Linked DNA regions of Homo sapiens: region 2 is linked to region 1. The links come from fine-mapping of genetic effects on gene expression. Tissue or cell type: whole blood. Region 1 holds a variant in brackets; the other region holds the start of a gene. All regions are shown on one strand. Distances are from middle to middle.

Region 1 (5,735 bases):
GGAGAGAGAAAAAGAGATAGAGAAGTAACCAAAAGAAGAAAGTTTTTAAAGGTTCAGAGGAAAGAATGAGGTCAGTTGCAATTTTTTTTAAGTAAGATGTTGGAAAGAATAAATGACATGATGAAAAGGAAACTGACATGATTCCTATCATGAATTTGAAAGCTATGCAAGGGTGGAAAGGTGGGTGAGAAGCTGTGGACTGGTGAGAAGACAGAGAAGTCAGAACTGAGAGCATAGCAGAGAACTGTACTTCTGTTGTGCTACATATGTCATCTTCATCTTTTGTATTGTGCCTTAAATTTTCAAAAGCGCATTTGCGTTTCAAATCTGCTGTGATAGTCAGCATTCCTGTGGCATGCAGAGGTGAAGAGCATGAGGCCTTGCCCTTCAGTCAAGGTGGGGATACTGGCACACATAGGATACTACATACTCCCTAGGTGTCTGTGAGGATGGTGGAGGGGATTTTCTCCATGCCGGGAGGCTTCCTGGAGCAGGTGCTGCCTCTCGTGACTCTTGAAAGATGCTTGTGAATAAAGCATACTGGGAGCTGAGCTGCTGTTTAGTAATTAAAAATCCTTTCCATTGTTTAGAGCTCAGCACCTTTGTGCATTCATATTACGCATTCATTTTCGTATCATTGTTGAATTTCTCACTTCTGCTACTGCAATGTATGTCTACAGCTGACAAGTCTTCCTTGGGAGCCCTACGTAGCTCTTTTTTTTCTTTTCTTTCTTTTTTTTTTTTTTTTTTTTGAGACGGAATCTTGCTCTGTCACCCAGGCTGGAGTGCAGTGGCGCAATCTCGGCTCACTGTAAGCTCCACCTCCCGGGTTCACGCCATTCTCCTGCCTCAGCCTCTTGAGTAGCTGGGACTACAGGTGCCCACCACCACGCCTGGCTACTTTTTTTTGTATTTTTATTAGAGACGGGGTTTCACTGTGTTAGCCAGGATAGTCTTGATCTCCTGACCTTGTGATCTGCCCGCCTTGGCCTCGTAGCTCTTTTTGACCCTCAGGGACAGTCACTGAATTATGTCTTGGGAGCCCATGCTTCTGAGGCAGGCTTAGGGAGCAGGAGAGCATACAGGTGTAGCAGCCTTTCCAGCTGATCCCCATGCCCTGCTGCACCTGGAGGGCTGGAACAAGCTATTCTCATATTGGGGAAAAGGGCTGATGGGACCTCAGTCATGTGGCAGAGAATCTGAAAGCCAGAAGCTTGGCAGGTCTGTCTCGGGGTGGGGTGACGGAGAGACATTTCCCTAGAATTCAGCTGCTGGGAGCAGAAAGACAGAGCAGGGGCAAGTGCTGGGTTTCTGAGGCCCGCAGTCCTGAGCATGGCCTCAGGCAGTCTGTTCTATGACAGAACCTGAAGAAAGGCCCAGGCATTTGCATCTATGTGTGCAGTTCTACTTGTCCTAAAGGCACTTCTCACACTGGGAGCCTGCCTGTCTGTACCTGTCTAGAAATCAGCCTGGCTGGGACGCACACCAATAGGAGGGCATCCTCACCTTTCCCACCCATGAGTCGGGACTGTTGCCTGCTGTGCAGCAAAGGCACCAGGAACACGGAGTCAGACACTTAGGGTCTACCCCAGGCTCCACTTCCCACTGCCTATTTGACTCTGGGCAAGTCTTTTACAGCTTTTCAAACTTCTCTCTTTCTTAAAACAAAAAAAAAAAAAAAGGAAAAAAATTTCTTGCCAGGCACAGTGGCTCACGCCTGTAATTCCAGCATTTTGGGAGGCTGAGGTGGGCTAATCACTTGAGGCCAGGAGTTCGAGACCAGCCTGGCCAACATGGTGAAACCCTGTCTCTATTAAAAATACAAAGATTAGCCAGGCATGGTGGCACACGCCTGTAATCCTAGCTACTTGGGAGGCTTAGGCACAAGAGTCACTTGAAACTGGGAGGCAGAGTTGTAGTTAGCCAAGATTGTGCCACTGCACTCCAGCCTGGGCAACAGAGCAAGACTCTGTCTCAAAACACACGTACAAATTTTTTTCTTTTATTTTTTTAAAGACAGGGTCTTAGCTATGTGGCCCAGGCTGGCCTCCAATCCCTGGGCTTAAGCAATCCTCCCACCTCAGTCTCCTGAGTAGCTAGTACTATAGGCACACACCACACACCCAGCCAGACTTCAATTTTCCCAGCCACATCATGGACCAGAAGCCACTTGGTCTGGTTGTGAGGATGACGGAACCTTGCCCGAGGAAATGGGCAATGAACAGGAGCCTGTTTGTTTCTCCTTCCAGCTCCTGACCTGTCTAGCTCCTGACCCTCTCAGTGTCATTCTTGCTCACCCCTGGCCCTGCTCCCTGGATATGCAGACAGGATGGGCTTCTTCCCTTTAGACCTTCACTTTGCTCTTTTGGACTCCTCTTCTGGCCTTGCCTTCCCCTGGTGTCATCTGCTGGCTCCCTGCCTGATACTGCCACACTGGTCATGCTGGCCTCCTGGCCTTTGGTGACACCGCATCAGCAGGCTCCTGCTTCCCTGTCAAGGGATACAAGCCAGCACCGGTCTTTCGCCACAAGGTATGTGTGTAAAGATTGCTTCCTGTACTTGGTGTCCACAGGATTTTAAAGAACTCCTGGCCCACTCGGAACTCTACGCTTGAAACAGAAACATCTTCTCAAAACACCTCTGGTATTGGCCCATTTCTCTATTACTGTTTCTTGTGGTTTCATACTGAGGTTTTTGGTGCATTGCAATTGCCCTGGAGTTTATTTTTAGTAATAAAGACAGAGTTCAATTAATGTCAAAACATGAGGGTAATTGCAGAGGAAGGATTAGTAAGTCTAGGGGAAAATGTGCCCAACTTTTTTTCTTCTGATAACATCTTTCACTGATCATACACCGTCACACCCACAGACACGGAGCTTCCTCCGTGATGTCTGCAATGCACTAGGCCCAGTCGGGGAGCAGTGGCTGCGCCACCACCTGAAAACGAAAGCATTTCTGAGTCTCTTTCAGTCCAGCTCATCTAGCAGCCAGCCACACAGGTGACCACCCACCGTAGCTGTCACTATGGGTGATGATTATCATTATGGTTTTGAGGAAAGGCTGGGCTTTAGAATAGTCAATTCTTATCCTCTCTCCGGGGGGATTTATTCTGTCTCCAGAAGCAGCATTTCACTTTCCTGAACATCAGCTCTTCTCCCCTGGATTGCAGGGTCTAGGTCTT[G/T]TTCTCTGTCTGCTTCCAGCTTTTGGCATTTTGACAGCACATAGGACATGCTTGGAGAACGTTTTCTTGAGTTAACTGAATTCAGGACACTGACTTGGGGCTGGAAAGGCAAAGTGAGGAAGAAAGTATTCCCCTTTCAGAAGCTCCCCAGTCTGCCTTAAGAAACAAAGGCAGCCCTGTCATCTGCCCAGGACTTTACAGTTTATAAAGTGATTTCTCATCCTTTCTCCTTTCTTGTATTGCACAAATATCGAACGAGAACCTGCAGTGTGCCACTGTGCAGGGTGCCTAGAATAAAGGAGAAAAGCCACTGTGCTTTCTCTGAAGGAATCACAGGGAGTGAAGCTAGCTTCATGGATGCCAGAATTTCACAGATGAAGGGACTGGAGGCTTGGAGCAATTGCATTGCTTGAGATCCCCCCTGCTCATGGATGGTGGCTCCCAAATCAGGACATGAGTCTTCTGAATCCCTTAAACCTGCCCTGTGCCTGCCTGTTCTCCCAGCACATTCTCTGTACTCTCTTGTGCTGCTCCTCACCCCCTCTCCAACTGTCTCTCCTTCTCCACCATTGTCCTCTGCCCACTCCTAGTCCCTTCTTTCAGCTCTGTTTCTTCTGAAAATGAGGATCTTTCTCTCTACAGTGCCTCTTGTGGGACGGGTTCTGCTGATGGGGGCTGTGTTTGGGATCTCGCCTGGAAACACGATCTCTCCAACTTTCCCTGGGAGCAGAGCCTTGGGTCTCACTGAACCCACCTCCCCAGCACCTTGTGTGGTGACTGGCAGGAGGTAGCCATTCCCTCCTGTCCTCTCTGCCCTTGTCCACTTTCCTGTTATGAGTCAGTTGCTGAGATAGGCTATGAGGAGTTAACAGAGTGGATAAAAAAGAGCTTTGTCCTTCTTTAAAGCCTTCAAAATATACAGATGTATTAGTCAGGGCTTTCCAGAGAAACAGGACCAATAGAACATGAAGATAGATGCGTATCCATGTCTATATCAATATCTACCTTGATATTTATATCTATATCTAGGAGATTTATTTATTATAAGGTATTGGCTCATGCAATTATGGACCCAGAGGGGTCCTGTGATTTGCCACCTGCAGGCTGGAGACCTAGGAAACAGCTGTCGTGTCACAAAGGGCAGAGGGCTGGAGAACCTGTAGTGTAGATTCCAGTCCAGATTCGAAGGCCTGAGGACCAGGAATGCCAAGGGCAGGAGAAGATCGATGTCCCAGAACAAGCAATCAGGCAGAGATGAAATTCAACCTTCCTGTGCCTTTCTGTTCTATTCAGGCCTTCAGTGGGTTGAATGAGGCCCAACCCACATTGAAGAGGACCATCTGCTTTACTCAGTCTCCTGGTTGAAGTGATAATCTCATCTGGACATACTCAGAAATGCTGTTTAACCAGCTCTCTGGAAATCCTGTGGCCCAGTCAAGTTGACACACAAAATTAACCATCACACTGCAGAGACACAGTCTATCCCAATACCTGTATTTACTGGGTAACGTGCATCTCAGCTCACCAGGCTGGTTTGATTGACTTGGCCCAAAGCTGCCCTTTGAGTGTTGAGCCCCAGCTGACCCCTTTGATCCTTCACAGCCCCATCATTAAAACAAGGACCCTGAATCAAGTGACTGTAAGAGCCACTCTTGTCCTGTTCTGTCTGTATCCTGGCTTTGAGTGTTTATCTAAGCTAAGCCCAATTGACTGTTGTCATTCTTTGTCTCTTCCTTGCTCAGACATCAGTTAGGTATTTATTGAACACTCCTGTGTTCACAGCATCCGGCTCCTGGGATTAGAGACAGCTCTTGACTCCTGGTTTTGCTCTTTGAAACCTATTGGACTGCTTTTCTTTTAAGATACACCCCCCACATTATAGGAATCTATCCATTTCTTTGTTCATTTCTTTAATTGTGCATTATATCAGTCCGTCAGTCAGTTTTCCTCCTGAAATATGCTAAGTATTGAGAATTATAATAGATTCTATTAAGCACCGCTAATAAAGTACTATCCTTATAGTAGTAGTAGTGTTTGCGGTGATGGTCGTGTTAGTACTAGTAGTAATCAAGATGGCCATGAAGAGACTGCTTTTAATCTACCAGTAATCATGGTAAAAATAGTAATAGCTCAAATGTATTATTCATGGTGTTTCAAGCACTTTACATTATATGATGTCATTTACTCTTCACAACCTGCCAGGAAATGGAAATGATTACGTAATATACTCCAGTTTGCAAATGAAGGAATCTTCCTGCGGAACGTATGTGAAGCGCATATTGGTGCTCTGGGCTTTTGCATAATTTCAAATGTCCTTTTTTTTTTTAAACTTAAGGCTAATGTTTAGAAGCTTTTGCTAATGAGAGGACCATTTGCTAAATCGGTATAAGTGCTACACATTTGGGTATCTCCATCCCAACATACCTCTTATTGCCATTCCCCAAAGCAGACACCTTCTCCTCCCTCCCTCAAGGACCTCTGAGCTTGCACTCCAATTCCTCTCCCACACTCACCTTTCTCCTTTCTGTTCCTCTTGGGATCCAGGTTTATTTGA
Region 2 (4,780 bases), 200 kb before region 1:
GATCACGAGGTTAGGAGATCGAGACCATCCTGGCCAACATGGTGAAACCCCGTCTCTATTAAAATACAAAAAATTAGCAGGGCATGGTGGCGCACGCCTGTAGTCCCAGCTACATGGGAGGCTGAGGCAGGGGAATCGCTTAAACCCAGGAGGTGGAGGTTGCAGTGAGCCGAGATTGAGCTGCTGCATTCAAGCCCGGTAACACAGCAAGACTCCATTTAAAAACAAACAAACAAACAAACAAACAAACAAACAAAACAAAACAAAAGCAGATATACCAAAATGTTTATTTTGGATGGTAGGAATATTAAAATATTATTTTTTCTTTGTATTTTTACTGAAAAAATGTTTTAATTCTAAAAAAGAAATTAATAAAAAGGAAAATGTGAATCTAAGATTAGTGCATGAGAGCTGGAGACCCAGAGAGGGCAAACAGCATCAAGGTCAAAGTTGAGTGAGTCCTGGGTGAAAGTGTCTTTTCAGCCAGGGGAGATTTTCCATGCAGAAGGGACTGGGCATCAACTGTCAGGACATGGACAGAGACGTCTGCCATTAGAAGCTGGTCCTCTCATAGCCCACCAGCATCCCCCAGGAGGACACTGGCTTCCTCAAGGTCACAGCCTTTGGTTTCTGGAAAAAATGATTAAGCAGTGAAAGGATTAAGGTCTCACAGCTCCTATCGCATGATGTATAGATGCAGAGGTTTCTCATCATCTTCTTTTTATATTTTAAAAGATGGATGACAACTAGATGCCAACTGCAGCTCAGGCACCTGCCCAGTCCCTCTCAGAGCCGGGCACAAAACAGACACCTGTCTAGCCCCTCACAGAGAGCCAGGCACAAAACAGACACCTGTCCAGCCCCTCACAGAGAGCCAGGCACAAAGCGGAGACTTGTCCAGCTCCTGGCAAGGAGCCAGGCACAAAAGAGATGCCCATGAGTGTAAATGAATCTGTGAAACAGGCAGAACAGGAGCATCAACTGAGTAATTGTTTTTTCTTTTTCAAATAAGAACATTTGCGTTGAGAAGCCGCCACGGGAAGAGATGTGATGAAACACTACACAGAAAGAGGGAGGAGCCTCCGGGTAGGTTGGAGTGAGTAGGATGTAGGGTAGCCGGCAGGGGAGAAGAGGGGCAACCTTCTGTTCCGTAATATTGATACCACCCATTTGTGTGTCCAATTTTTGCTGGTTTGTGACGTCCTTCTAGGGTCCATGAGTAACCCCCACCCCATTGCCTAGCTGGGTGCCTGACTCCCCTTAAGTGCTCAGTAGACGTTGAACTGGACGGGCGCTGGCGTGGTGGCTCACGCCTGTAATCCCAGCAATTTGGGAGGCCGAAGCGAGTGGATCATCTCAGGTTCGGAGTTCGAGACCAGCCTGGCCAACATGGTGAAACCTTGTCTCTGCTAAAATTACAAAAATTAGCTGGGCGTGGTGGCGCGCGCCTGTGATCCCAGCTACTCCGGAGGCTGAGGCAGGAGAATCGCTTGAACCAGGCAGGCGGAGGTTGCAGTGAGCCATGATCGGGCCACTGCACTCCAGCCTGGGTGACAGAGTGAAACTTCATCTCTAAATAAATAAATAAATAAATAAATAAATAAATAAATAAAATAAACTTTGAACTGAACAGGGGCAGCTCTTACATCTGTCCAGTCTCGGGTTTATGCAGATAGAACAAGATAACCACATCCCACATGGGAGGCCAGTGTCCACTTGCTCCTTTGGAGGAACTACTGGGCATTTAAGGGACTCGTTGAACACACTCTGTAGGTCAACTCTGCCCGGAGTGGAGGGAGCTGCGCAGACCGCTGGCCCTCTGCACGGGTTTGCAACTCGGCTTCTGGAAACAGCGGGAGACGTCGAAGGAGGCGAGAAGGTGCGCGCGCCCTTCTCACCAGGCCGGCGGATGCTGGGTGGTACCCAAAGAGGCGCTCAGATCACTGGAGCTGGAGCTCAGTCGGCGGTCTTCTGCGGGAACTGCACCTATCCCGGAGCATCTCTGGCCCTCCTATTTCACTGAACTCGCCTTCCTCAGCAGGAAAGTGGGAAGACCGCTTGCTTCCAGGACGGTGTGGGGAAGGGTAAGAGGGCTCAGGGAAAGACCGTGGAAAGCTCGGCGCACAAGCGAGCTGGCATCACCGGGGATTCCCTCCGGCCCGGTGGGACTCCGGCGCGCTTGTAGCGAGGACCCCCAGCCCAGGGCAGAGCCTACCCTCCGCTCCCCCAGTCTGGGCCCTTGGCGGCCGCAGTCGCCCAAGCCCGCCCCGCCTCCGCGCGCGGCCCTCTCCGGCTCAGTGCCCTGCGCTGCCGGGAAGCAGGCTGAGGGGCGCACCGGGCGGCGGGCGGGGACCTGGGGAAGGCCGGGAGCGCCGGGACCGAGGACGCACGCGGCGGGCCGGGCCGCGCGCGCCTCCCCCCTCCCCCGAGGCCCGAGCGCGAGCCGCCGTGACGTCACGGGCAACCCGCCAGCCCCGCGCTCCTCCGGGCAGAGCGCGTGTGGCGGCCGAGCACATGGGCCCGCGGGCCGGGCGGGCTCGGGGCGGCCGGGACGAGGAGGGGCGACGACGAGCTGCGAGCAAAGATGTGCCCCGGGACCCCCGGCACCTTCCAGTGGATTTCCTTGCGGAAAGGATGTTGGCGGTCCCTGTGACCTGTGGAGACACGGCCAGATCTGCCCTCCAGTAAGTTCCAATTTTGTCCCCTGCGTTTCTGGAAACTCTCGAGACTTGGCCCTGAGTAGGGATGCGCTGTGAGTAGTCGGACGGAGGAAAGGGGCTTTCGGAATCCAATATGTGTGTGCTAGGCGTGCACTGTCCTCATCACCAGCCTCAAGACTGGTGGCGAGTTTGGGCGTTTGGGGAGGGTGAGGGGAGGGGGATGACACCGAATGGCCGGTGCATAGAGGCAATTCTGGATTTATGAACTTGATCAAAGGCATATTAACTAATTTCTAAAAATAGACCCCTCTGCAGTCAGAACAGATTTGGAGCCATGATGTGGTTTGGAGGCCCCTCTGGCGAAACTAGAGGTCTGTGAATGTGTGATCCTCCCTCCATCCTTTGACCATCACTCCCCGCTTCCTCTCACACCCCCTCAGGGCTGGGCGAAGGTGATTTCCAAAAACTCAGTAACTCCGTGTTTTGAGACTTTCTCAGTTTTTGCATCGCATGTGAGGGTTTGTTGGGTGCTCCTAAACCCTCATCATGGTCATTCTTCTTGGCTGGGCTGTTGATTTAATTAGGTTTGCCTTCTCTTGCTAACGTGCTCTTATTTATGCCAGTGTTTGTGGTTCTGGGTGTAGACTTTCAGGAAGCACAGCCATGAAGCTGCATGCGTCTGTGTGTGGATGCCTCATGCCTTTTCCTGGTGGTTTGCAGGCATGGAAGATTCTTCTGTTCATCTAAGCTCCTGACTTTAGGCCCTTCTAGAACATTAGAGAGGAGAAGAAATCACGTGCAAGGATTTAGGGACAAGAGGATGAGGTTTTGGTGTTTCCTTTCTGGTATTAGGTTTTCCAGAGAGAGGCTGTTAGCCTGTCTCTCGCCCACTCCACCACTGTGAATCCTGGCTACTGGGGCTAGTTCCTTGCTAGGAAAAAAAAACTCTAGAGAAATGTGTTTGTGTGTGGTGGGTGGGCGGGGGCCCTGAGGATGCAGGGACTGTGTCTGCTGTGTTGTCTGTTATAAGATGTTTCAGACCTATTTTGCATACTGGCAGCGACAAGTTGAGACTTGTTCAACTTGACACAGTCCTGTGGTCATAGCGAATCTTTCTAAAGCTCTGATCAGTCAAGAAGGGGGTTGTATCAATCCTCAGAACCCTGAGTGGAACTTTCTACAGGATTTATTAGGAGAAAAACCTTCCCGGAAGCTGCAGAAGGACAAATACAGAATCCGTGTCTGGGAGAAACCTCGTGGCCTGGTCTCCATTATTTGAGATGAGTTACATCTTGGAGGTGAGGACGTGCCTCGTGGTCTAAAGCTTCGGCACAAGGGCCCAACTGGAATTCCACTTACGGGTATGACTGTGGGGTATATGCTGTACCCATTGAATTCCCAGAGGGATTTGTTAAGTGGTTGTGTTGCTGTTTTGCCTGGTTAAGAGTGGCTTATTCTTGTTGCCTCATCTATCTTGAGTGCAGAATTTTTGCATAAACGGCTTCTCTTGAAAAATAGAAGTCCGTTTTTGTTTTGTTTTGTTTTTTTTCTGATTAACTTTCCTTTTCCTCTGTCTTAAACACCTTCCCCCGCCCCTCGCCACCTCCATGCTGTGTTTCTGTGGCTGGAGCTTTTCTGCACTGGAAAGGAGGAGTTCTCCCCTCTGTTCTGACATATCTGATCCCCACTAGTTTATATGATTGCTGGTCTGAAAACCTGGTGAATTCTCACTGCCCACATCAAATCAATTCCCTGTTCTTTAGTTGTTTTTTTTTTCCGCCTCCTGAGCGGTAGGCAGGCACTCTGGCTGGATTCTGGAGCCTGTGTTTGCCATGCCTGGGCCTTCTGCCTGCCCAAGATGGACACGTTTCTCTGGCAGCTTTGTCAAGAGATCTCCTGGACTATAAGACACCCTGTTCTTTCCTCCTGTTTGTGTGAGTGGCCCTGCATTTGGGCAGAGTATTGGCAGAATATCTGGGGGAAGTGGAAGACTTTGGATAGTTGCCGGTCCAGGTCGTCTGGAGAGGCAGTGGCAGGCCTGCTGATGGCTGCCCCTTTGCTATTTGTTTTATATCAGGTGGCCCTTCTGGATGTGTGGCCTTTTTATTTTGCATTTCCTT

What was found. PIP is the estimated chance that this variant, and not a neighbour inherited with it, causes the effect.
Region 2: PVT1 starts here. The variant in region 1 is fine-mapped to the expression of PVT1 in whole blood (INTERVAL, PIP above 0.99).

Annotation. Positions count from the first base shown.
Region 1 is chr8:127,990,409-127,996,143 of GRCh38, forward strand. The region is part of intron 4 of PVT1 (Pvt1 oncogene); the gene reads left to right. Among named protein-coding and RNA genes, the nearest start is that of MIR1206, 16 kb to the right of the region's middle. RefSeq lists enhancers at 1,887-2,388, 2,354-2,683, 2,389-2,888. The variant G/T (reference allele first, on the strand shown) is at 3,182.
Region 2 is chr8:127,792,051-127,796,830 of GRCh38, forward strand. PVT1 (Pvt1 oncogene) reads left to right here and starts at 2,474. Exons shown (of 9, transcript NR_190187.1): 1 at 2,474-2,684. MIR1204 (microRNA 1204) reads left to right here and starts at 3,912; the gene lies at 3,912-3,978. RefSeq lists enhancers at 884-1,454, 2,597-3,166, 3,167-3,738, 3,460-3,509, 3,610-3,949 and silencers at 2,180-2,229, 2,250-2,309, 2,320-2,479.